Homo sapiens: one gene and its partners. The protein of the gene in region 1 interacts with the protein of each later gene in a pairwise test. Each region holds a gene or a part of one and is shown in the gene's direction. Other genes may lie near its edges. The genes, in order: PEX12, ACSL5, BNIP2, THSD7B, FXYD6, C5orf46 and PEX13.

Region 1 (4,115 bases):
ATTTCCTGCTTGATTTAGTTGATGCTACCTCTCAACTTTGTATTTTTGCTATTCACTTAAGAAAAGCTTGTACATAACAGTTACTATTAAACAAGCACCTAATATGTATCCAGGTGCTTCATATGGATAAACTATGTCTAGTCTTAAAACTCTGTAAGGTAAAAATCATATATCAATATAATGTCTTTTGGTAGAGTAAAAAACACTTTTTATAACTATAATTAAGGACAATTTGTAAGGTTTTCTCTCCTATTGGAATAACTAAATCCAAACCTTGTTTTTGAGGGTTCTCATTATGCAAACCAATTATTTTTATAACATAAGGGCCTCTAGGGCAGTAAACAATACCTTCTATTCCCAGCTATTTAGCCCAGAGGTGGCACTTCCCAGAGGAAGGGAGGAGAGGTGGAACTCTCATCCAAATTCAATAAGGCTGTGTCAGCCAACTTCAGCGAGACAAAGCTGTACATAACATAAAAGCACTTTACAAACCTTAAGGTAAATCACATTCATTTTGGTATAAAAACGGCATGAAAGGAAACTTTCTGTCAAGTGTCCCCAGTGCATGCTAGTTACAATTCATAAAGCTCCCTCTGCGTTAGTACTGTATTCATATCGCTGGTGGTGACATATACAACTGTGTTCAAGGATGGAGACCATTTTCATCCAGTATAGCAAGTGCATGCAGTTATGCTTGAATATAGCCAAAACCTGGAAGACGTTAAACTACCAGCTTGGATGAAAATTAACCGTCTCAAGTACTGAGGAACAAGCATGAACCTTTCTCAATCCAATCATCTTTCCTTATAATTGGCGGCAATAAATCTAAGGCTCCTATCTCCTGCTATGTCGCTTTAAATCATTTCTGGAAGGCTAAGACATATAAATTAACCACCATCCCTGCCGCACGCGTACAGCAAAGTCCTTTCCACCTCCAGATTCCCTTCCTCCCACCGCCCCTAGCTTCATCGCCTGCAGGAACACAGGGCTCAGCAACGGGCCCGAGCTCTGGCTCCCGGCGCCAGACGTCTGCGCGGTGCCCCAAACAGCTTGTCAAAAAGACCTCGCAGAGAGAGGTTCAGAGCTGTAGCTTTCCAGCGAGGCTACCATGCAGACCCAGCTACGAAAAGTAAACCAAACTAGCCAAAACCAGCCCACAAGGGCCCTCTTCTGTTTCAGCGGGGCGGGAGCGGAAGCTCAGGTGGGTCATAGAGTTCTCTAGTTCTGGTTTCCGGACCGCATTCGGAACTAGAGCGCCTCTCTTCCGCCAGGCATCCCAGAGGTCCTGGTGGTTTCATTTCCGGGTGCGGCTTCTGTCATAAAGCGGAGACCTCCCTTCAAACGTGGCGTCGTGGGTTGTTTGCGCCTCGCCTGGGGTCAGCGAGCAAGGACGGGCGCGGGCGGGGATACTCAAAGCCAACAGCTGGAGTCAGCCCTTGTGTCCCGGGCTCACAGTGGCACGACTGAATCCTCAGAGTCGGCTGGCTTTTGAGCTCTCACGATTGGGGAGGAGGGGGCGTTTCTGGTTCGCAGCTCCAGAGGATTGCGTTCCTTCCCCCATACCTGTCCCCCACAGTCACGCTCTGCCCTGACGTGCAGCATTTGACAAGTTACCCCCTCGCCACATACTACTTCCACCCACGTCCGAGTTAACTTTGTTCTTAACCTTCTTGAGACTACCCTCGGCCTCCAGGTCTTTTTTTCCCAGTTCATTTTTGCCCATAAGATTGAGTTTCGAGTTTCAGATATCATGCAGAAAGTTTACCTTTAAGACTGAGCACCCATCTGATACTCTTCCTCCCGAAAAAGTTCATGCTCACGAGAGAGTTTGTGGGAAAAGTGAAAGCCAGTACACGCAGGAAACTATGGCTGAGCACGGGGCTCACTTCACAGCTGCTTCTGTGGCCGATGACCAGCCATCCATCTTTGAGGTGGTAGCACAGGACAGTTTAATGACAGCAGTGAGACCCGCTCTTCAGCATGTGGTCAAGGTAAGGTATTAATTCTTGGAAAGGTTTTAGGGACAACTGGGTAAAAAACAAACGAATAATTTGTGCTTATTTGGTAGCCTAGCGTTTGAAATAGCCAATTTGCAAATAACTTGTATCCCATGACTTAAGAGTTACTGAGTCTCTGTTATGTGTAGAGACCTGTACTGAATACCCAGCATTTCAGGGTCCAACAGTGACTTATTTAAAACAAATTGTGTAGACTTTAGAGGAAAAGGGGGAATGTAAATAGGTGTAGAACTTGTGTAATGGAATGAATTTCACTTATTGCTTTATTTTGCTTTAGGTTCTTGCAGAATCAAATCCCACCCACTATGGCTTCTTGTGGAGGTGGTTTGATGAAATCTTTACTCTGCTAGATCTTCTGCTCCAGCAACATTATCTGTCTAGAACCAGTGCCTCATTTTCTGAAAACTTTTACGGCTTAAAGAGAATTGTAATGGGGGACACTCACAAGTCTCAGAGATTGGCTAGTGCTGGTCTCCCAAAGCAGCAGCTTTGGAAATCTATTATGTTCCTGGTTCTTCTTCCCTATCTGAAAGTGAAGCTGGAGAAGCTGGTTTCTAGCCTGAGAGAAGAGGATGAATATTCTATTCATCCCCCTTCTTCCCGCTGGAAACGATTTTACAGAGCTTTCCTGGCAGCCTACCCATTTGTGAACATGGCCTGGGAAGGATGGTTTCTTGTACAACAACTTCGATACATCCTAGGAAAAGCTCAGCATCACTCACCACTGCTGAGGCTGGCTGGAGTTCAGCTAGGTCGACTGACAGTTCAGGATATACAAGCTCTGGAGCACAAACCAGCTAAGGCCAGCATGATGCAGCAACCAGCCAGGAGGTAAGGCCTTAACATTTCCAAAAGATCTTTAGTTAGTAAATTCGAAAATCGTATCCCAGTTTTGTAAAATTCACCTCCCTGTTAACTTTGTGGCATTTCATAGAGTCATAGAAAAGCTATTCCTTGTGTCCATAAAACAAGGACTGTCATCCTGGTAACCTTCATCATTCTAGGTATACTTTAGTGCATACTTGCTATGTCCCAGGCCCTGTGCTAGGTGCTTGCTTTACGTACATTATCTCAATCCTCAACACAACCCAATGAAGTAAATGTATTAGCTCACAGTTGAGGAAACTAAACCCAAGCAGTTAAGTACCTTGCCAAAGTCACGTAGGTACATAGAAGGTGGCAGAGCTGGGATTCAAACCAAACCAATACAATTCTAAAGACTGTGCTCTGTGAGCCACTGCACCCAGCCTAAGACTGTGCTCTTAATCATGATGCTGTGCTCCTTCTAGTTCATATTTGTGTTCTCCTACAAGTTCAAATATATACATTCCTCAATACTGCTAAGTTTTTTATTAAGTGAATTGGGTTTTTTTTTTTTTTTCTGGATCACTATCTTCCACTAAAAAAAGGGAGGTCTATATAATCAAATTCTCTGATTTATCTTTCAAAACACAAAACCAAACCCTAATCATGTTACTAAAAACAAAGCTTAGCTCCTATGCTCCTAAAATATTGTAAGTTAGAATCACTTAGAATAGATCCTTAAGGAGATAGTACCAGTCTACCAACCATTCAGTCCCCCAGTGATTCTGATGAAAAATGTAAGAATTGCATTTATATTAGTCACTTTGTAATGATACCTAAATAAAGTTTCTCTCTTTGCCTCCTTGTTCTTTTCTCCCAACAGTGTTAGTGAGAAGATAAACTCAGCTCTGAAGAAAGCTGTTGGGGGTGTTGCCTTATCCCTGTCTACTGGCCTTTCTGTGGGTGTATTCTTCTTGCAGTTCCTTGACTGGTGGTACTCATCTGAAAATCAAGAAACCATCAAGTCATTGACTGCCCTGCCTACTCCACCACCACCTGTACACCTAGACTATAACTCTGATTCTCCCCTCTTACCCAAAATGAAGACTGTGTGCCCACTGTGTCGTAAAACCCGGGTGAATGATACTGTTCTTGCCACCTCTGGCTATGTGTTTTGTTACCGCTGTGTGTTTCATTATGTGAGGAGTCACCAAGCTTGTCCCATCACAGGTTATCCAACAGAAGTACAACATCTGATTAAACTCTACTCCCCTGAGAACTGAAAGGGAATCA
Region 2 (3,500 bases), on another chromosome or scaffold:
GTGTGTGTGTGTGTGTAATAATGTATATTATCAAACTTTCTTCCAGAAAGATCTTTTTTGCACATTTCTGCAAGTATACAAGGCCTTATTTGCCCATGCTCTTGCCAGTGACAGACTTTATCAGTCATTCAGATATTAGCTAATCAGATAAATGAAAAATCTTATTACAGTTTTGTTTCTTTTATTTACACCAAACATCTTTCTATTGCTTATTGACATGTATATTTTATCCATGAATTATTCTATTACTTCCTTATAGAAAAACAGGCAAAAGATAATTTGGTCCTTTTTTATATTTCTAAGAGTTCTTCACAGAGTAATACAGGTTGAGTATCTCCCTATTTGAAATGCTTGGGACTAAAAGTGTTTTGAATTTTGCATTTTTTTCCAATTTTGTAATGTTTGCATTATAAAACAGTTGAGCATTCTGAATCTGAAAATCCAAAATCTGAAATGCTCCAAAAAGCATTTCCTTGGAACATCATGTTGGCACTCAAAAAGTTTTGGATTTTGGAACATTTTGGATTTCAAACATTTGGATTAGAATAGTCAACCTGTAATATTAACTTTTGTCATGTTGGAAACATTTTTCCTGGTCTCATCATTTTTGCCCTGTGTATTGCCATATAAAAATTTCCAATGTTTTTATAGTCAAACTAAATAATCTTTTCTATTTGTAGGTTTTAAACTGCTTAGACAGGACTTCCTAACCCCCAATATTTCATAAGACTGTTTCACCCTTATTTTCTGGCAAACTTACCATTTTCCATTTTTTCCTTTTAAGTCTCAGTTCCACCTGAAATTTGTCCAAGTGCTTGGCCATGCATATTGTCTCAATTTTCACCCAGATGGATAATTAGTTCATTCATTCAACCAACCATGCAGAGCATGAACAAAACAGGCATAGACTTTTCCTCATGAGTCCCCTATCTGTATAACCACAATCAAAAGAGACTCCAGAATGATGCCAAGGCCTGAGGTCCTTCAAATTAGCATCCTCTTAGCCATTTTTAATACTGTCCTTTCCTTAAGCCCCTAAAACCAATAGATCAGCAGGTCCTGTTGCTAACTCCTTCCCGAAATGTCTTCTCTAAGCCTTCCTCTCTCTCCCAACTCTGCCTATCACAGGCCACACCCCCCATTGCAGCAGCCCTTGAACTTGTTTCCTGCCCCCAGCCTCTCTCCAGTCAAGATTATCTTCTATACCAAGGATTGGCAAATTGTAGCACTGGCTAAAACTAGTCTGCAGCTGGTTTTTATTTTAAAAATATTATTCAAATACAGCTATGTCCATCCATTTATATATGGACTGTGGCTGCTTTTGTGCTATTTTGGCAGAGTCAAGTTTTGAGTCAGATACCAGATGGCTCACAAAGTGGAAAATATTTACTATCTTGGCCTGTACAGATAAAGTTTGCCCACCCTTGTTTTATATCATAGTGGGGGCTATTTCCCTTAAAAAATACTACTCCCCTTCTTCAGTTCCTTCAGTGATGCTCCATTGCTCAGGGTCAAGTTCAATTGCTATTGGGTTGCACACCACTTAGTGAATAACTTACATGTTCCCACCTACTTGAAATGCTGCATTTTCTTTTCTTTTTTTTCTTTTTTTTTTCTTTTGAGATGTAGTCTCGCTCACTGTGTCACCCAGGCTGGAGTGCAATGGCACAATCTCGGCTTACTGCAACCTCCGCCTCCTGGGTTCAAGCAATTCTCCTGCCTTAGCCTCCTGAGTGGCTGGAATTACAGGCATGTGCCACCAGGCCCGGCTAATTTTTGTATTTTTAGTAGAGATGGGGTTTCACCATGTTGGTCAGGCTGGTCTCGAACTCATGACCTCAGGTGATCCTCCCGCCTTGGCTTCCCAAAGTGCTGGGATTACAAGCATGAGCCACCATGCCTGGCCAAAATGCTGCATTTTCATATAAAGTTCTATGCTTTGGTCTATTTCCAGACCCTTTTGGTTTCTGAATGGCCAGAAGGCTTGGTAGTAAATACTTTGCAGCTTGGGTATGAGTTCAAGGTTTTTTGTTTGTTCGTTTGTTTGTTTGTTTGTTTTTTGAGACGGAGTCTCGCTCTGTCACCCAGGCTGGAGTACAATGGCGTGATTTCAGCTCACTGCAACCTCTGCCTCCCAGGTTCAAGAGATTCTCCCACCTCAGCCTCTCAAGTAGCTGGGATTACAGACACCTGCCATCATGCCCAGCTAATTTTTTTTGTGTTTTTGTAGAGATGGGGTTTCACCATGTTGGCCAGGCTGGTCTCAAACTCCTGATCTCAGGTGATCCTCCCGCCTCGGCCTCCCAAAGTGCTGGGATTACAGGCATGAGCCACCGCCCCCTCCAAGTTCAAGGTTTTAAGACACTAAGTGGTCTCGAACCCTTAGAGACCTTGCTTTCCTCGTGTCTTGACCATAGCACGTGGCCAGCTCACACTTTATCTTGAGTAAGTCTAAAAGCTCTTCTTTGGTTTCCCAGGTGTATGAAGCTTATGGTCAAACAGAATGCACAGGTGGCTGTACATTTACATTACCTGGGGACTGGACATCAGGTAAGTCCTCCATCTGCTGGGCAGGAGGTGCCATGGTTGGGAGAAAGGTTCTAACTGAACTAGGACTTTGGAGTTTAGATAACTTCAGTTCTCTGGACTAATGTGGCAAATGCAAAATTCAAGTTTTGGGTCCAGGCCTGCCTATCTTGGCTAGTCTGCATTGGTGCCAGGTGATTTTTCAGTCTTCCTCTTCTAGAGTCAATTCATAAATATCTTAGAAATGTGCCTGGAATTATCACCATGCAAGAGTTTCTCAGCTAATTCAGCACGGTATGTTCTAGGTCACGTTGGGGTGCCCCTGGCTTGCAATTACGTGAAGCTGGAAGATGTGGCTGACATGAACTACTTTACAGTGAATAATGAAGGAGAGGTGGGTAGGTCATGCCCTGTGGTCAGACAGTCATGGTGGGGAGGTTTATATCAGAAAGAGCAAATAATTGTAAGCAAACTTGGATTTGGCCCCTTTGAGATTGTTAGCAAAGAATTAAGCATTCTGAACTTCACTTTCCTATCCCCTATAGTGGAGACTTAGATCTGGTGCTCTTCACAGTGTAGTGGAAGCCATCAAATGATTTAAGGGGAGCAGGTGTTTCATAAACTGCCCACGCTGGGAGGAGCAGCCTTTGCTATTGTCACCGCCTTGTATGTCTGCTGTGCAGGTCTGCATCAAGGGTACAAACGTGTTCAAAGGATACCTGAAGGACCCTGAGAAGACACAGGAAGCCCTGGACAGTGATGGCTGGCTTCACACAGGAGACATTGGTCGCTGGCTCCCGGTAGGTATATCATCAGAACTCCTGGAAGTCTATGCTAATGGACTGAGAAGAACAATCTGCTTATAGCAAGAGGTGCAGAAATGCAAGTAGGTTAATCAGCTGAGGCAGCTGGAGGGGATTAGGTTTGTACCCTACCTGGCTTATGACTTCCTCATACTATCCAGAGAAGAACAT
Region 3 (3,500 bases), on another chromosome or scaffold:
ATACTCATTCTTTATGTATTATATTTTATAACTGTGCGCGCGCGCGCGTGTGTGTGTGTGTGTAACAAAGAAAAAGAGGAAGAAGCCATTTTCCCACACCATCCCCCTAAGTTAGCATTTTCTTCAGGCTGTCAGTTGAAGAACTAGGATAAATTATTTCCGGTTGTGATTCATGTTATACTTTTATAGACTACTTATAATCTAAGAGATGATTTCTCTAATTGATCAGTACTAAAGAGCATTCTCCAAACTTGAACATAGTGCTCAACAAATTTGAGTAAACTGATCATCAATATTATTATTGAATAATCATATTGCTAAATAAATAAAAATATTTAAATCATCATAACCTTAATGTTTTCCAGTGACTGAAATTCTGTTCTGATTATCAGATTCACATTCTTCCATGTAACTTCTTGGACTTGGTAGAAGGCTGTTAACATAAATAACTGAGTATTACAATGCATGTGGAAAAGTTTCTTTGTTCTGCTCACCTGAGGTTTTAGTCTATTTAATGTATGAAAGTCAGATTTATTAAGTAAATTTTTACTTTCTACATCATGTAGTAAATATTTTTGGTTTTGCTGGAAAATTTAAATGAGTTTATTTTTAGTAGCTTTTTTCAAGTTTTTATTCATTTTCATAACATGTATATTTACTGAAATAACTCTTCCCTACAAAGGTATGAAGAAGAAAAGTTTAAAAAGAAACAAAAAAGGTATATGCACACCTTGACTGGGTTGCATCTAGACTAGTCCATTTGCATTGCAGACTAACTCTTCCTTATTGGTTGGTTAGCTTGTAGACAAAGATAATAGCATTTGCAAATATAAATGTACCCCAACTTCCAAATACAGGGTGAACCCAGAGTTCCTAAGGCTGAATATGACTTGGATTCACCATGTTTTATTGCCATATATGATGCCAATTAGCAATTAAAAACCACAGACCCTTCTCTCTCCTTCTTAGTCTAAGTACTAATGGTGAAACCAGAGAAATTACTAAAAATGGTATTTGGAACACCAAATAATTTTAAGACTTTATCTGTTTCACCATTTTCTTTAAATCGCTAACTTGTGCTTTTGAAATATTTTTGCAGACTTTTTAAAAGTTCTCAATTTATTTCCCTGGGGTTGATTATTATATTTGCAATGCATATATACTTTGGCTAACCAACATTGGTTTCCTTTTATGCTTAAATTAAATGGCTTGCTAACCAGTCAAATTCTACATGTGATAAAATACCTAAAATCTCAGTGTCCCATTTAACAGTTAAACACTTCACTTTCTATTTTAAATTTAATTTTGAACACTTCTGCTTTGAGCATAACAAACTATTATCTATTGATACCTTGACATAGATGATGAAAGGCAAGGGTATAAAATACTTAGAATTTTGTATAATAATTTAGAAAAACGTAGAATTTAGATCTAGTTTGTTAGATCTTTAAAATATTGGCAATTAAATTAGCAAAACATAGTTTAATACAATCTTAAGAGTTACGGTGAGAGATTTATATGTAATTATCTTGACCATTCTAAGGAGCCAACTGTAACTAACTGGAACATTCTTAACTTTGAACACATTTTGTTTCTGTTGATGAGTGAGAATTTAGTAGACTTTGTGATAGAATCAGTTTTACACTTCTATATGACACTTCACAGTTTAACCAACACTTTAACATAGAAATGTAGACAGTGATTTTAGATCATGCTGATTTCACATTCCTTTCTAGGCATTGCTGTGCATTCGACAGACAAGTGGCTGAAATTAAAAATATGATTTGTAATTGTAGAATATTTTGAAGCCAGCTGCTTCATAGATTTCACAGTGAATTGCCTTTGTTGATAAAATATGCTGTATTAAGCCTTTTTAAAAAAAGTTTTTAATACTGTTAAGTAATTTAGACATCAGAAAAAATATGGAATTTGTACTTTTTATTTAAATATATTGTTTGAAACCTGTCACTATTTTATCTTGATTTTTTTTTTACTTGTGTTTAACCATAAATAGAATGATTACATGTATCTTTCAAAAACGTTCTGTTTTTTGTAGTTTCTTTAGTCTTAAAAAATAATAAATTTTTGTCAATCTGAAAATGATAAAATTTAATTTTTAAATTAAATTTAGGTAGAGAGGCATGTTTTGTTTTGAGACAGAGTTTCACTCTTGTCACCCAGGCAGGAGTGCAATGGCCCAGTCTCAGCTAACTGCAATCTCTGCCTCCCGGGTTCAAGCGATTCTGCTGCCTCAGCCCCCCAAGTAGCTGGGATTACAGGCACCCACCACCATGCCTGGCTAATTTTTGCATTTTTAGTAGAGACTGGGTTTCACCATGTTGGCCAGGATGGTCTCGAACTCCTGATCTCAAGTGATCCACCCACCTCGGCCTCCCAAAGTGCTGGGATTACAGGCGTCAGCTACCACGCCCAGCCTAAACCAAACTTTACAGAAGCTAGGTGCAAGGGAGCTTATTTAAGGTGACAACTGCATGATATGATAAGTAGTGGTGCTAAGAAGAGTATGAAGCTATGAGTCCCTATGGCAGGTTTTTGGGGAGCAGGGGAAGAAGGGGCAAAACCATTTTCTTGAGGGGCTTGTGGGGAAGAGGGTTGAAGAAATGTTGACAACAGGGAGATCCAGTGTCCCCAGTGACAGAAAAAGGATAGCAGTTTAAATGTTTAAAATGTTTCTTTCAAACAACTGGATGCAAGTGTGGCCATGCAGATACAGATTGTTAAAATGTTTCAGGGGAGTTTAAAAATAATTATGAAATTAGTTGGTAAGGATATTTCAGATGTTAAGAGGATTTGATATATTTTGCATGCCTTATCAGAAATACATTCCAAATTTTTTATAACAATATTTTAAATATTTTAAAATGTTACTTTGGCTTTACCACAGACCAGGGCTTTTAGGTCTGTTTCACTAATATTCAGGTGGGCATAGTAATGGGTGATGAGAATAAAAACATATGAAAAATATTTTTCTTTATCTAATACCGGATTGTTTTAAAGGTCCCTTCATCAGTTATTCAGACCACTACAAATGTAATAGTAATAGACTGTTAGCTTTGAAGGGTTGTCTGTAATTATTATGTGGTAATTATGTAATCCTTCTAATGCCCACATGCGTAAATTTTGATATGACTGATGTCCAACCCACCACTAAATAAATAAGCTTTTTGATGGGTTTTTGTTTTGTTTTTTTGAGACAGGGTCTTGCTCTGTCACCCAGGCTGGAGTGCAGTGGTGCAGTCTCGGTTCACTGTCGCCTCCGTCTCCAGGGCTCAAGCAATCCTTCCACCTCAGCCTTCTGAGTAGCTGGGACTACAAGTGCACACTACCACACCTGGCTAATTTTTGTATTTTTTGTAGAGACGGAGTTTTGCCATGTTGCCCAGGCTGGTCTCAAACTCCTGGTCAAGCAGTCCGCCCGCCTCGGCCTTCCAAAGTGCTGGGATCATAGGTGTAAGCCACTGTGTCTAGCCAATAATTAA
Region 4 (3,500 bases), on another chromosome or scaffold:
AGGCAGATACAAATGGGCACAAATCATATAGGTCCTTGATGACCCTAGGAGAGGAGTCTGGATTTCATTCTGTACTATGGTAAGCCACTTCAGAGTTTTCAGTAGACCAGTGATTTGATCAGATTTGTACTTTGAAAGCTGGCTCTGACTGCAATGTGGTGGACAGATTGAAGGTAGTGAGGTATGATGGCATCAAGATCTTGGAGAAATCTGCTGTAATTTCAGCTGGAGATTTGCAGGTGGGGCTAAATATGGGTGACACCCATTGGAATGGAAACAAATGGACTGATGCAATGAATCTTTATGCATTTGAAGTGATATACCTTTGTCATTAATCAGATATAGGGGGTTCAACAGAATAATTCAGGGCATTCCAACTTTTAACTTGGTGATATTGGTAGAATTGAGAAACGCAGGAGAAAGAAACATTGTGATGTAAAGAGAATGGGTGTGATTGGTTCTTTAGATGTAGATTTTTCAGTCTATGGATTGGAAGCTTGAGCAAGAAATCTTGGATGAAGACAGTCATTTAAAATTGAAGAAATATGTATGATAATTAACACTCTTCAAATGGGTGAAGTTGTAGGATCAGAAGAGAGATGAACCTAAGATGTTGCCTTGGGGAACCCCATCAGTTTAAGGGAGGTAGAGAAGAAGAATAGTTCACCAAGTAAAAATAAATAATATATGGCAAGAGAGAGGTGGGGGCATGGGGTGAGGGTGAGGAACAAAAAGATATGTTACGATGGAACTTGGAAAGAATATTTCGAGAATGAAAGTGTAGTCAATACTCTGAACTATCATTGAGTGATTAGACCTTAAAGATAAGGAATAAAAGATATTCCAGGGCTTTGGCTTTGTTTCTTGTTTTTGTTGTTGTTTGTTTGTTGCTTGATAACAGTGGTTTCCAGAAATAAGTAGACAGAATCCAGGGTTAAGTGGGTTTAGAAGAGAAATGAAACTGAAGAGATGAAGACTGAGAGATTCAACAATATTTTATGGAAGTTTGAAAAAAGGGAGGTCTTGAACCTGCTAAATGCTAATAGGAAGGAGCCCCTCACTAATTATTGATATATCTCTCAGCCAGTAAATTTTCATGGCTGTGGTGGAAGCTGTGCTTTTCAAACTTATTCTAGTGTCCTAATGGTAGAGGCAAGTGAATATCTTCTATCAGAAGTGTAGCTGAATCTACTACCAGCTCAACTTCAGGTCCTGCAGAAATTCTTTTTTTTTTTCTTTTTTGAGACAGCATCTTGCTCTGTCGCCCAGACTAGAGTGCAGTGATGCGATCTTAGCTCACTGCAACCTCCACCTCCTCAGTTCAAGTGATTCTCCTACCTCTGCCTCCTGAGTAGCTGGGATTACAGGCACGTGCCACCACACCTGACTAATTTTTGTATTTTTAGCAGAGATGGGGTTTCACTATGTTGGCCAGTCTGGTCTCGAACTCCTGATCTCAAGTAATCCTCCCCCAGTGGCCTCCCAAAGTGCTGGGATTACAGATGTGAGCCACCATGCCCAGCTTAGAAATTCTTATTTATTGCAAACATAAGCATCATGGCAGACCATAGAGCCAATCATCCCATCAGCAACTCTAGAATTGTATGTAATGCAAACCATGTGGCAATGAGAAAGTAGCCCATGCATCAGCTTGTATCAGGCATTTCAGAAAAGCCATAAACACAAAAAATAGACCAATAAAACTGCCTATATATTTTATAACCAGCCATGACTCTAGCTAATGACTCATTAATGAGAAAACAAAAGGTGGAATTATTAGATCTAGGAAAATTTTTAGTAATCCAGAGGAATTGTGTTAACAGCAAAGTTGAATCAAGTTACAGGCTGATTTAGAATCCACTAAACATGATTACCAAGTGTTTACAGCTGTGAAAAATGACACTGCATTGTCTTACTCAGAGATAGGACCAAAACTAACAGGTCCATCAAAGTGAATTGGTAAGGTAAAGTCATATTTCAGAATACTTAAGTTAGAAGAATCTCTCAAAATGAAAGAGCTTTTTCTCTGATTAAATTATCCAGTATGACTTGATCATTTATTTCAATTTATTGTTTGTATAAATGTTTGGGAGCTGCCTGATGGCAGAGACCAAAATGAGTTTAACTTTGTCCATCACATTGCAAGAGACCTCTACTAAGAAGAGAGGGAGTTAACCACTTAGATGCTTTCATTGGTTCCCTGGCGATCGTTAGTCAAGGAGAATGGGGACAGGGTTATCAGTATGTTTTTTCCAGCAAACTTACAGAGAAAATGTTAAATAAATTAACTGGAATTCTCTAGCTGTAGCAAACATCTTCTAAATATTTTATGCCACTCTCAAACATTAAACCATTTTCTACTTTTTTCAAATTAACTTGAATTTCACAGTTGTTCTGGGAGTTGTTTCCGTTGTCTCAGGATTTACTTTCATGACAAAAGAGTGAAGAAAACAAAGGCTTTATTTTATTTAATATTCTAAAAGATTACAAATACAAAAGTGTGAGTGACTTTTAACAAAACAGCAGATAAGCATTTAATATCTTAATGTCTCTTGTTGGAACAGGGAAAAGCAGAAAGAAGGAGAAATGCCAGGATTCTGACCTTTACCCTCTAGTGGAGACAGAACTATGTCCTTGTGATGAATTTATATCCCAACCTTATGGAAACTGGTCAGATTGCATTCTTCCAGAAGGCAGAAGGGAGCCTCACCGAGGACTGCGGGTACAAGCAGACAGCAAAGAATGTGGAGAAGGCCTGCGCTTTCGAGCAGTAGCCTGTTCTGATAAAAATGGAAGACCTGTTGACCCCTCCTTCTGCAGCAGCTCTGGTAAGGAGATGGATGGAGAGTAACAGATGAGAACACTCACACACAGCTCGGGAGGTTTGTCTCAGGTCTAGAATTAATAGCTCTGCTCTATAATAATTGTTTTAATTTTCCTTTGTCAATAACACATTGTCTCTCATAAAATATGGACAGATGAAATGCATACATCTGTATCTCAATGATTATCTGGAATGTGATGGTGCTGGATCCCTGACTCACTTCATTCTCTAATTCACCTTTGTTTATTAGCCGCCTGTTTACTGGTGGTCAGCACTGCTGCTCCACTTCACTGAGAAAGCCAAAGCCAAATACAAACAAATATGTTCCATGCTGTTTTTTCATGCTCTGACCATATACATAGAAGGCATCAGAACTTGAGTGTCTTCTAATGTAGTTGAGAAAAAAAAAAATCAATGAAAAAGTTGATTTTAAAAGTTTTACCGTATAAAGGCCAGGCGCGGTGGCTCACGCCTGTAATCCCAGCACTTTGAGAGGCCGAGGCAGGCGGATCACCTGAGGTCAGGAGTTTAAGACCAGCCTGACCAACATGGAGAAACCCTGTCTCTACTGAAAATACAAAATTAGCCGGGCGTGGTGGCGCATGCCTGTAATCCCAGCTACTCGGGAGGCTGCGGCAGAATTGCTTGAACCCGGGGGGCAGAGGTTGCAGTGAGC
Region 5 (3,500 bases), on another chromosome or scaffold:
TGCCTGAGTTGGCCTCGCAGTACTGTTCTGTGTTTCTGCTTCTGAGGGCTGTTGTGAGAAGTCCATGGGTGATGGCTGGGATGCCACAGTGTCACGGTTGTCAGTGATGGTGAGGTGACAGCAAGACCTGGGAAGGGGGCTGGGGCCCCACGGACCAGGCTGGGGCCCAGAGAATGGGGCTGCCCCAGTTCAGAATATCTGATGTGGGCAGAGAGGGCCAAGGATGAGGGGATGTGATTGGAATGACAGTGACCCGCATGCAGCTGGAGGACAAAGCCAGGCCGGCACGCACTGAAAGACCAGAGGCTAAGATCTCTCCACCATGCCTCCGCTTATGGTCCAGCTTGGGATCTTTCCAGGGAGACTTCCAGAAAACAGGCCTGGATTTGTGATTTGTGAATTCTGTTTCTGTTTCTAAGGAAGAGGCCTTATTTCTTTTCACAGTCAGTTATTTTCTGTCTCTCTCTCTTCTTCTTCTTCTTCTTCTTTTTCCTCTGTCCAAGTTTCTCTTCCCTAGAAAGAACTTCATGTTTTCATGTTAAAGATAAAGGTGCCTCCAGGTTAAAAATAAGTCCCCTGCTATATGACAAGAGAGTTTTGCCTCTCCCGCTCCACCCTGTGCAGCCGGGCTGGGTTGGGTCTGGGCCGGTTGAGTCCAGGGTACCTGACGACTCAGCCTCCAGCACCCTCGCAGTGGGAGTGCCCCTCTTCCATGAATGAGGGTTGGAGGGGCAGCATTCGAGCCGTTGGGCTACTGAAGGCGCCTGACAGGAGAGGGAAAGGCCACCCTGGGAGGTGTCAGCCACAGTGATGCGCTGGGCGGAGGTGCCCTGTCCTGCTCCTAGACTGTCCAGCTGCCTTCCTGGCAGCTTGGGAAATTCAGCAGTGTCTGCAGCCTCCTTGAGCCATGGACTGCTGGAATTTCACCACCCTCTGCTCTGTCCTTTCCCTTGCCAGTCTCTGAGTCCAGTCTCCTCCTCGACTCCTCTCTGGAACATTGCTGGCTGGGCGGGGCGGGCAATCATTTCAAGTTAGGTGATTTAACAATAATTGATGCTTAATTGTTTATTTGATGGGCATTTAAAATGCAAATTGAGGGAACTGGTTGCATTTTCCACTGATGGATCTGTGGCCTCTGGTCGACCCAAAGCACTTGTTTTAAAAGGCAGCTTTAAAAGCCCTTGATGGTTGTTTGTTTGCTCTGAGGCTCTGAACCAGAGAAGCCCAGCTCCTGTTACAGATTCATCAAATGCCGGAAAGGTGAGCAGGAGCCGGAGTGCTGGGATGGGGTTGAGGATTGCTTTTAACTGAATTTTTGAATTTTTATTATTTTTCTACGAATAGACTATCTTTTTAGAACAGTTAGATTTACAGAAAACTTGGGCAGATTGTATGAGTTCCAATTTTCTCCCCTGGCATGCAGTTTCTGCTATTATTACGATCTTACATTAGGGTGGTACATTTGTTACAATTAATGAACAAATATTGGTACAATAATATTGACTAACATTGACACTTTATTAAAATGTCGTTCGTTTGTACCTTATGTCCTTTTTCTGTTCTAGGATCCCATCCAGGATACCACACTCCATTGAGTCGTGCCTCTTTTGGTGCCTCTGGGTGGTGACCTTTTCTCAGGCTTCCCAGGACTTTGACAGTTCTGAGGGTCACTGGTCAGGTGTATTGTAGGATGTGGCCCTGTTGGGATTTGTTCGATGTTCTCCTCATGATTAGACTGGAGTGATGGGTTTTAGGGAGGAAGATCACAGAGGGAAAGTGCCATTTTCATCACATCACACCAAGACGATACAATCAGGATGATTCATTGCTGTTGACGTTGATGGGACTGGGTTTTCCATCCCTTTCATGCCCCCCACGCAGCACAGTTTCAAGGCCTGGTGATTGGAGCTGTGTTCTCTCCGCTCCTCGAGACAAACATACCAAACCATCAGCCAGCACTTTCGGCCGTCCTCACCATCCCAGGTGAGGACAGATCATGGGGTAGCACAGAGACTTTTCCGATAGGAGAATCTTAATGAAGCGAGCATGAAACAGAATGTGCTATGCGCCAAATTAGTGCCAACGACAGGCGACAGGCGCTCTTGGAGTCTGGAGAAAGGGGTCTACGTGGAGTGGCAGCTGGACAAAGATAGCATTTATTAACCTTGGCTGCACATCAGAATGAGTGGGGGAGATTCTCAAAATTACCGATACCTTGGCTACACTGCCCTTGGCTACACTGCCCGGGTTTAGAGCTGAATGTGGCTGAGTTGATTTCCAGGCATCTTTTTTCTTTTCTTTCTTTCTTTCTTTTTTTTTTCTGAAGCTCTTCATGTGATCCTAAGGTACAACCAGGGTTGAGAACTGGAATAAACAAAGAAGGGAAGGGCATTGTAAGTAGAAGGAACAGAATATACAAAGGCACGCAGTTAGAGACACATGTGGCAGAAGATGGAACGTAGACCATCTTAGCTGAAAGTAATGAGAAGATACTGGAGGGGTAGAAGAGAGGTACACTTAGAGATTTTCATATGCCAGAAAGAAGTTTGGATTTTAAAAAACTAAATAGGACGTAGAGGCACCACCGAATGCCTTTGAGTTTGGGAGGGAGGTATTCAGAATACACTTTAGAAAGGTTAGTCCTGCAGTAATCAGTGTCCAGCACAGAGGGGAAGGAGGAGGTTAAAGATGGGTCCAGCTACTGCACTATTAGGTAAGTTACCCAGAGGAGTGACGGAAAGGAAGTTCCAATTAGAGAGATACTGCAAGTGCGAGCATGGCTAGGACTTTGCCACAGATGCAGTGTGGAGATGGGGAAGGAGAGAGGAAGCCCCGGAAACTTGGTGAGGCCGTAACCTCCGTCAGGCAGGGAGGCAGGGATTGTGTCTGTCTTGCTCACTGCAGTGTCCTCAGTGATGAGTGAAGTGCTGGAAAGCATTAGGCCATCAATAAATATTTGTTAACTTGGTTACTGGAAGGATAAGGGTGCCATTGTTTCCAAAATTACACCTTGTTCCAAAAGTACGCTCTTTCTCCCCCAATTTCTCCACCTAAATGCAGGCAAATTTCTCTGCTGTGGAAAGCAATCTGATTAAATAACTCAGGCCAAGATATAAATGACTGTTAGGATTGGGAGTATTTCTCTTGTAGTGATGCCGTGACATTTAAACGTCTCTCCTTGGGAAGAATTGTTGTGGAGGCAGATACATTTTTGAGTAGGGGTGGCCTTTATTTCGATTCTACACCCTCATCTAATTCTGAGCCATACCAGAAAAAAAGGTGATCTGCAGCTCTGCAGCCCACGGTGAAAGGCTGCCGGCTAGTAGTTCTGTTGGCACCCACCCTGAGCTGAGCTCCAGTGGACAGGATAGCCTACAACTGGTCTGGGACTCCATCCAGTACTCAGCATAAATGCACTGGTATTCTGCTAGGCAAAGTGCAGCGGGGCACTCAGCAGCTGTGAGATGGACAGAGGCTGAGAGGGACACAGGAGTGCCTGT
Region 6 (4,247 bases), on another chromosome or scaffold:
GGGAAAGAGAGCATCAGGAAGAATAGCTAATGGATGCTGGGCTTAATACCTAGGTGCCAGCCAGGCACGGTAGCTCACGCCTGTAATCCCAACACTTGGGAAGGCTGAGGCGGGCAGATCACGAGGTCAGGAGATTGAGATGATCCTGGCCAACATAGTGAAACCCTGTCTCTACTAAAAATACAAAACTTAGCTGGGCATGGTGGCACATGCCTGTAGTCCCAGCTACTAGGGAGGCTGAGGCAGGAGAATCACTTGAACCAGGGAGTCGGAGGTTGCAGTGAACTGAGATCGCGCCACTGCACTCCAGCCTGGCAACAGAGCGAGACTCAGTCTCAAAAAAAAAAAAAAAAAAAAAGAAAGAAAGAAACCTAGGTGACAGGTTGATCTGTGCAGCAAATCATCATCATGGCACATGTTTCCCTATGTAACAAACCTGCACATCCTGCTGGCTACATGTGTAGCCTGGAACTTCAAATAAAAGTTGATGGAAAAAAAAGAGAAAAATAAAAGTAAAATAAATAAGACAGTTTATGTTGTCGTTTTCTGTTTGTTTTGAGACAGAGTCTCACTCTGTCACCCAGGCTGGAGTGCAGTGGTGTGATCTCCGCTCACTGCAATCTCCGCCTCCCAGGGTTCAAGCGATTCTCCTGCCTCAGCCTCCCAAGTAGTTGGGATTACAGGTATCTGCCACTACGACCAGCTAATTTTTTGTATTTTTAGTAGAGACGGGGTTTCACCATGTTGGCCAGGATGGTCTTGAACTCCTGACTTCGTGATTCGCCCACCTCAGCCTCCCAAAGTGCTTGGATTATAGGTGTGAGCCACCGCGCCCAGCCAACACTTAGTTCTTATACAATGGGGTCAAGTGTGCTATAGGGCAGATGATGAAGTAACAAACTGCCTGGAGAAGGGTGGAGTGGTTATCATGAAGGTATCACAAAGAAGGACCATTTGAACTGAGGAATACGTAGGAGTGATCCGAAGGGAGACAAGGAGGAGGGTATCTGAGGAAGAAGGAAGAGCAAGAGCAGACGCATGGGGTGTGAAAGGGCATGCCCATGTGGGAACAAGGGATTGTCCCAGAGCACGAGGGAAGGCATAGAGTGTAAAGGGAGGGTGTAGGCTTGCCTTGCCAATCTGATTTGTTGCCTGCTGCTTGGCACTGACGAGCAATTCTACCTGATATCCCTTTAATTATCAATGCTGGCCTTGAAACTAGCCTCAAGAGATTCACTCCAGAACCCTTTATAGATACAAATTTTAAAAATCAAGAGGGTTTTTCTTTCCCTATATGTAAAATGTTTGGTTTGAATGATAGGGTATGTCTCATTAGTACAGATCCAAAAGCAAGCTGTGCAGACATCTTGTGCAACAATCTAAATTCCAAAGCAGATGATGTCACCTATCTATGCCCTATAAATGGAGCATTGTTTCACATGTATCTGAACAATTTATCTGCACGAATACCCCGTGCTACCAGAATGGCTGTCTCAGTACTTCGCCTGACAGTTGTCCTGGGACTGCTTGTCTTATTCCTGACCTGCTATGCAGGTAAGTGCTTCTGATCACAGCCCATGAATTGTTCAGTAGTTAGCAGTGACTAGAGAAAGCTGATGGCACTGATTCAGAACATAAAAGAAAGAAGGGGTCTTTGGGCACTCCAGAAAGAGCACTGGCCTGGGAGACAAGAGGTGTATCTTCTAACACAAAGAAAGTAGAATTTTAATAAAAACCTAGCCTCTATTTTCAGTGGATGTATGAAGTTTGAAATTTTTTTATGTGCTCTTATGATATAATGACACTATTCTAGTATAAATTCCATGGGAGCTGACTGGCATTTATTTTTTGATAATTATTCCTAATAATGTTCATTGGTGAAGAATATGTACTCTGGAATAAAACTCCTGTACCTGGCTCTACCACTAACCAGAAATGTGACTTTAGGAATGCTATTCAATCTCTCTAGGCCTCACATATAAATGGGGACATTTAACTTTCTCGTAAAGTTATCATGAAAATTAAATAAAAGGAATGAAACAAATTGGAAGGGTACCTGGTTGATAGTAAGCATGCAATAAATACTACCTGCTATTGTTGTCATGTATAATCTCATTTGGTTCTCATAGTAATCCAATGATGTAAACATGTACAGTTTTATCATTTTCCTTTTTGCAGGTTAATAAACAGGTTGCAGAGGGCAAGTTACTTGAGCATACATACAGGTGAAAGTGGCATCTGGGAGTGAAACCTAGGTTCCTAGATTCTTTCTACTATTATCGAGCAACTATTTCTTTCCCACCTTTTCCAAGCACATAGAAGCTCATGCTGTATGCTGCCTTCTCATTAATTAATTTACTGTTTGTCTGCAAAAGTCTGTGAGCTCCATTCAGAATGATAGACCAGAAAACAGAGGGAGTGCAAACATTTAGTGACAGAATCCTTTGAATGTAACTTGGCTGAAGAACACACAGACAGACATTACAACAGAATTACTCTAGACATGGCCACGGATATTATTCAGTCCATTCTACTCCTAAAGAAATCACTACAGTGAAGTGAAAGGAGAGATTTGATACCAAGACCAGGCACCACCCTGTCTCTTATAAACTCTGAAACTGGTTAAATCGTTCACTGCTTTGAACCTCAGTTTCTTTATCTGTAAAACGGGATAACTATCAACTTCACCAGGTCAAATGAATATGCTTTTTAATTACTTTGTAAACTATTAAAACTCTACAAATATCAGCAATACTGTTTATTAAGAACATTATATTCACATTCACTAAGAAACTCAACAAAGTAGTTACTGTAAATAAAGGCTATCCCATATAATACTTGAAAAAAGAAAATATTAAACTATTGACTTTGAAGATTGTTTCTAGGATATCAATCGTTTAATATTTTAATAGCATTTTTAAAATTTATATTATCTTCTAAAGCACTAGAGGAGAAAGTGAATTATAAATCATTTTGCTGCTATTATTATTAATAGTAACAATAAAACAGATAACATTTATTTATTCATTCTTTCATTTATTATTTATTTATATAAGGTAAGTTTATCTTGGGATTGGTACTACGATAAGTGGTATATATATGATATATGTATGTATATATAATATAGATATATGTATGTGTGTGTATATATATATAGATATATAATATATAAAATATCTTTCAATCCTGACAACATATGAGGAAACTGAGAGATGCAAAGTTAAGCACTGTGTGCAAGTTTACATGGCTAATTTTTTGTTAAAGGCAGGAATCAGACAGATCTATAAAACTCCAGAGCATGCAATCCATCACACTTTAATACCTCTCAATATATATGGGGTTCACAAGCTAAGGCCAAGATTTTGATTTCCGCCCACTCCAATCCCAGGCTTCTTGCATCTTGAAAAGCCAGGTTTTAGTGTCATATTAAAATAACAAGTCAATAGAATTTATTATGCAAGTAGCCAGATAGAAACACAGGAGAAAAAATCTCATCTTTCATGCAAGAAATTACTGCTTTGCATTTGGCAAATGTCTTTACAGAACAATTGTTTGGAGGTTGTATTATACAATGTGAATAATGTGCTTTGTGGAGTTAAAAAAAATTAGGTTCAAACCCTGGGTCAGCCACTTTCTAGATGAGTGATTTCAGGTGAGTCATTTAATTTTCCTGAGCATCTGTCTTCTCTGCTGTAACTGTGATACCACTGCTGAGCTAAATGACGATTAAGGCATGTGCTGAAAGCACTGATGGAGTACCTGCACGATAGGCACCTTACACATGAGTTCCGCTTCCGCCTCCTTCCCACAATAAAAACAAACCAATCCTTCTGAGTACCTGGGTTGCCCAGCACTTTATGTGAAGGTCATATCTACAGTTGTCTTTTTTTTTTTTTACCTTGACTCTTAGCATAACTATGCACATAATAGTAGGCTCAGGCCAGGCAGGATGGCTCACACCTGTGACCCCAGCACTTCAGGAGGCCGACGTGGGCAGATCACTCAAGCCCAGGAGTTCGAGACCAGCCTGGGCAATATGGCGAAACCCCGTCTCTACACAAAATACAAGAATTAGCCAGCTGTGGTGGCATATGCCTGTCGTCCCTGCTACTCAGGAGGCTGAGGTGGGAGGATGTCTTGAGCCCAGGACGTTGAGCCTGCAGTGAGCTGTAATCACTTCACTGCCCTTCAGCCTGGACGAGAGAGTGAAGCCCTGTTTCAAAAATAAAACATTAAAAAAGTAGGCC
Region 7 (3,500 bases), on another chromosome or scaffold:
TTCCATAAGTCTGTCTTGTGTTAAATCTAGATAATGTCTGTTTGTTTGTCTCTCTGTTTTCTCTATTATTGCTTATACTTGGGAGCAGAACTGTTTCATTAAAGCCTGAATGCACTGCACTATCTGGCCGTTCACTGGCTCCTTTTAAGTTTTGTTCCATTTTTAAATATCAGATCCAATAAAAGAAAAAAAAATAGAGTTCTAGTAGCTTGTTTATAATATTACGATACAAGTCTAAATTAAAACTTTAGCCTGGATTAGAAAATTACCATTTTGCAGTTCCACATCTAATATTTGTTTCAGGCAAGGATGATGAATCGATGCTAAACTATCAAATGAACAGTTGCTGAGGAATAGAATATTTGTGGTACAAAACTGTCATCCCATAGATTATATACTAATTACAAAGGGAAAGATACATTTTAATGGAAAGATCTAATAGTCACCTCCTTAACCAACTAATCAAATTTAGCTTCACAAATGCGCCTCCTAAAGTAATACTGTGTGAAGTAAACAACATCACTTATGAATTATTCTTGCCAAAAAATATTGAACCTGATTGCAATCAAACCGTTAAATGCAATCTTAATTTAATAGGAGGCGAAATAAGAGTACAAGTTAAACAACACTTGGGGGAAACACAAATCTGGGGGTAGGACATTTCTTTCTTTTCTTTTTTTTTTTTTTTGAAACAGAGTCTCACTGTGTCACCCAGACTGGAGGGCAGTGGCATGATCTCAGCTCACTGCAACAGCCGCCTCTGGGGTTCAAGCGATTCTCCCTCAGCCTCCCGAGTAGCTGGGACTACAGGCACCCACCACCACGTCCGGCTAATTTTTGTATTTTTAGTAGAGACGGGGTTTCACCATGTTGGCCAGGCTGGTCTCGAACTCCTAACCTGAGGGGACCCGCCTGCCTCAGCCTCCCAAAGTGCTGGGATTACAGGCATGAGCCACCATGCCTGGGCTGGGGGTAGGACATTTCTAGAAAAAAACTGGGTTGACTCTTTAGAAGGTCAGGGATATTTGAAAAAATGGGATTGTTCTCATTTAGAAAAGAAAGGAAACAAACCAACCAAATGCAGTGTGTGAGCCTTAATTGAATTTTTGTTCAAAAAAATTTTTAAAGATATTTTTGACTCATGTAGCACAATAATTTAAAAAGCAGTGATAAAAAGGCTAAGCCAAGTACAATGGCTCATGCCTGTAATCCCAGCACTTTGAGAGGTAGAAGTGGAAGGATTGCTTGAACCCAGGTATTTGAGACCAGCCTGGGCAACAAAGTGGGACCCTCATCTCTACCAAAAAGTTAGCCGGGAGTGGTGGTCTCACCTACATAGGAAGCTGAGGCAGAAGGATTACTTGAGCTGTGTTTGCGCTTCTGCACTCCAACCTCAATGACAGAGGGAGACCCTGTCTCCAAAAAAAAAAAAAAAAGAGGGCGAACTTAAAAGTGGGCAAAGTATCTGAATACATATTTTTCCAAATAAGATTGTAAAACGACCAATAAGCACATGAAAATATGCTCAACATCATTAGCCGTCAAGAAAATGCAAATTAAAACCACAGTGAAATACCACCTCACGCCCACTAGGATAGCTATAATGAAAAATATAAGAGCAGATGTGGCCAAGGATGTGGAGAAATTGGAAATCCTCATACATTGGCGAGAATGTAAAATGGTACAGTTGCTTTGGAACACAATCTGGCAGTTCCTCAAAAGGCTAAATATAGAGTTTCCATATAACCCAGCAAACATGTCCGTACAAAAACTTGTACATAAATGGTCATTGCAGCATTATTTGTAATAGCCAAGAAGTAAAAACAGCCCCAATATACATAAGCTGATGTGTGAATAAATATAATTTGGCAATAAAAATTAATGAAATACAGTTGGCCTTCCACATCTGATCAACCAACTGTGGATCAAAAATATTCGGAAAATAGGCCAGACGTGTTGGCTAACACCTGTTATCCTGACATTTTGGGAGGCTGAGGTGGGAGGATCACTTGAGGCCAGGAGTTGGAGGCTGCGGTGAGCTATGATCATGCCACAACACTCTAGCCTGGACAATAGAGTGAGACCCTGTCTCTTAAAAAAAAAAAGTATTCAGAAAAAAAAAAACTGCATCTGTACTGAACATGTACAGACTTTATTCCTTGTCATTATTTCCTAAACACTACAGTATAAGTAATTACATACATTTACAGTGTATTAGATACTATAAGCTAGAGATGATTTTAAGTATACAGGAGGATGTGCATAGGTTATATGCAAATGCTATACTATTTTATATTAAGGACTTGAGCATTCATGGATTTTGGTATCTGAAGGAGATTTTGAAACCACTCCCCCACAGATACCAAGGGCTGCCTGTGCTGATACATGCTATAAAATGGATAAACCCTGGAAACATTATGCTAAGTGAAAGAAGCCAGTCACAAAATACTACGTATTGTATGAGTCCATTTACCATAGATCCTCATTATTTGTGGATTCTGTATTTTCAAATTGGTCTGCTCACTAAAATTTATTTGTAATCTGAAAATCAATATTCCTGGCACTATCACAGTCATTTGAGGACAAACGTACATCAGGTAAAAATCTGAGTTGTCCCTCAGCTGACAACTGAGGGACAACTGAGAGACAAAAAAGCAACACTCTGGTTTCTTATTTCAGCTCTCATGCTGTAAACAGTTGTCTTTATCAAAGTCTGTTTAGTGCCAGGTTTTTTCACATTTTTTTATGGTGATTTTGCTGTCTAAAATGGCCCCCAAGCATAGTGCTGAAGTGATCTCTAGTGTTCCTAAGCACAGGAATGCTGTAGTGTGCCTTACAGAGAAAATACAGGTGTTAGATAAGCTTCATTCAGGCATGGGCTATTGTGCTGTTGGCCATGAGTTGTTAATGAGTTAACAATATACCTGGAATAAAGTGACTTTAAACAGAAACATATAAAATAAGTATATGTATTGATTGGTTGATGAAAGAAGCAGTGATTTGGTATCTGCTGGTTCAGAGTTCACAGCAACTTTACAGGATATAACTATCTTAAATAACAAGAATTAACTATATATGAAATGTCCAGAATAGACAAACCGAGGGACAGAAGGTAGATTCATGGTTGCCAAAGATGGGTGGAGGGGTGGGCAGGAAATGGGGAATAGCTGCTAATGAATATGGGGTTTCTTTTTTGAGGTGATGAAAATCTTCTGAATTAGACATGGTGATAGTTACACACCTCTGTGAGTGTACTAAAACCTATTAAATTTTAAACTTTAAAGTGATGCCTGGGCACAGTGGCTCACACCTGTAATCCCAGCACTTTAGGAAACCAAGGCAGATGGATCGTTTGAGCCCAGGAGTTTGAGACCAGCCTGGGAAACATGGTGAAACCCCATCTCTACAAAAAATATAAAAAATTAGCCAGGTGTGGTGGCATGCACCTGTAGTCCCAACTGCTCAGGAGGCTGAGGTGGGAGGATCACTTGAGCCTGGGA

What was found.
Region 2: the proteins of PEX12 (region 1) and ACSL5 interact in binary tests that used the Homo sapiens proteins (3 or more experiments, as listed by UniProt).
Region 3: the proteins of PEX12 (region 1) and BNIP2 interact in binary tests that used the Homo sapiens proteins (3 or more experiments, as listed by UniProt).
Region 4: the proteins of PEX12 (region 1) and THSD7B interact in binary tests that used the Homo sapiens proteins (3 or more experiments, as listed by UniProt).
Region 5: the proteins of PEX12 (region 1) and FXYD6 interact in binary tests that used the Homo sapiens proteins (3 or more experiments, as listed by UniProt).
Region 6: the proteins of PEX12 (region 1) and C5orf46 interact in binary tests that used the Homo sapiens proteins (3 or more experiments, as listed by UniProt).
Region 7: the proteins of PEX12 (region 1) and PEX13 come close enough for resonance energy transfer, tested with the Homo sapiens proteins (one large-scale study listed by BioGRID).

What each region holds. Positions count from the first base shown.
Region 1 is NC_000017.11:35,575,772-35,579,886, reverse strand, and holds the start of PEX12 (peroxisome assembly protein 12), read left to right. Parts: upstream 1-1,315; 5' UTR 1,316-1,865; coding exon 1,866-1,991; intron 1,992-2,295; coding exon 2,296-2,849; intron 2,850-3,705; coding exon 3,706-4,105; 3' UTR 4,106-4,115. UniProt on the Homo sapiens protein: Component of a retrotranslocation channel required for peroxisome organization by mediating export of the PEX5 receptor from peroxisomes to the cytosol, thereby promoting PEX5 recycling.
Region 2 is NC_000010.11:112,419,116-112,422,615, forward strand, and holds part of ACSL5 (long-chain-fatty-acid--CoA ligase 5), read left to right. Parts: intron 1-2,477; coding exon 2,478-2,550; intron 2,551-2,831; coding exon 2,832-2,920; intron 2,921-3,209; coding exon 3,210-3,326; intron 3,327-3,500. UniProt on the Homo sapiens protein: Catalyzes the conversion of long-chain fatty acids to their active form acyl-CoAs for both synthesis of cellular lipids, and degradation via beta-oxidation.
Region 3 is NC_000015.10:59,665,321-59,668,820, reverse strand, and holds part of BNIP2 (BCL2/adenovirus E1B 19 kDa protein-interacting protein 2), read left to right. Parts: intron 1-682; coding exon of another isoform or gene 683-718; intron 719-3,500.
Region 4 is NC_000002.12:137,409,045-137,412,544, forward strand, and holds part of THSD7B (thrombospondin type-1 domain-containing protein 7B precursor), read left to right. Parts: intron 1-2,564; coding exon 2,565-2,828; intron 2,829-3,500.
Region 5 is NC_000011.10:117,866,659-117,870,158, reverse strand, and holds part of FXYD6 (FXYD domain-containing ion transport regulator 6 precursor), read left to right. Parts: intron 1-3,500. UniProt on the Homo sapiens protein: Associates with and regulates the activity of the sodium/potassium-transporting ATPase (NKA) which catalyzes the hydrolysis of ATP coupled with the exchange of Na(+) and K(+) ions across the plasma membrane.
Region 6 is NC_000005.10:147,903,739-147,907,985, reverse strand, and holds the start of C5orf46 (uncharacterized protein C5orf46 precursor), read left to right. Parts: upstream 1-1,447; 5' UTR 1,448-1,484; coding exon 1,485-1,554; intron 1,555-4,247.
Region 7 is NC_000002.12:61,027,720-61,031,219, forward strand, and holds part of PEX13 (peroxisome biogenesis factor 13), read left to right. Parts: intron 1-3,500. UniProt on the Homo sapiens protein: Component of the PEX13-PEX14 docking complex, a translocon channel that specifically mediates the import of peroxisomal cargo proteins bound to PEX5 receptor.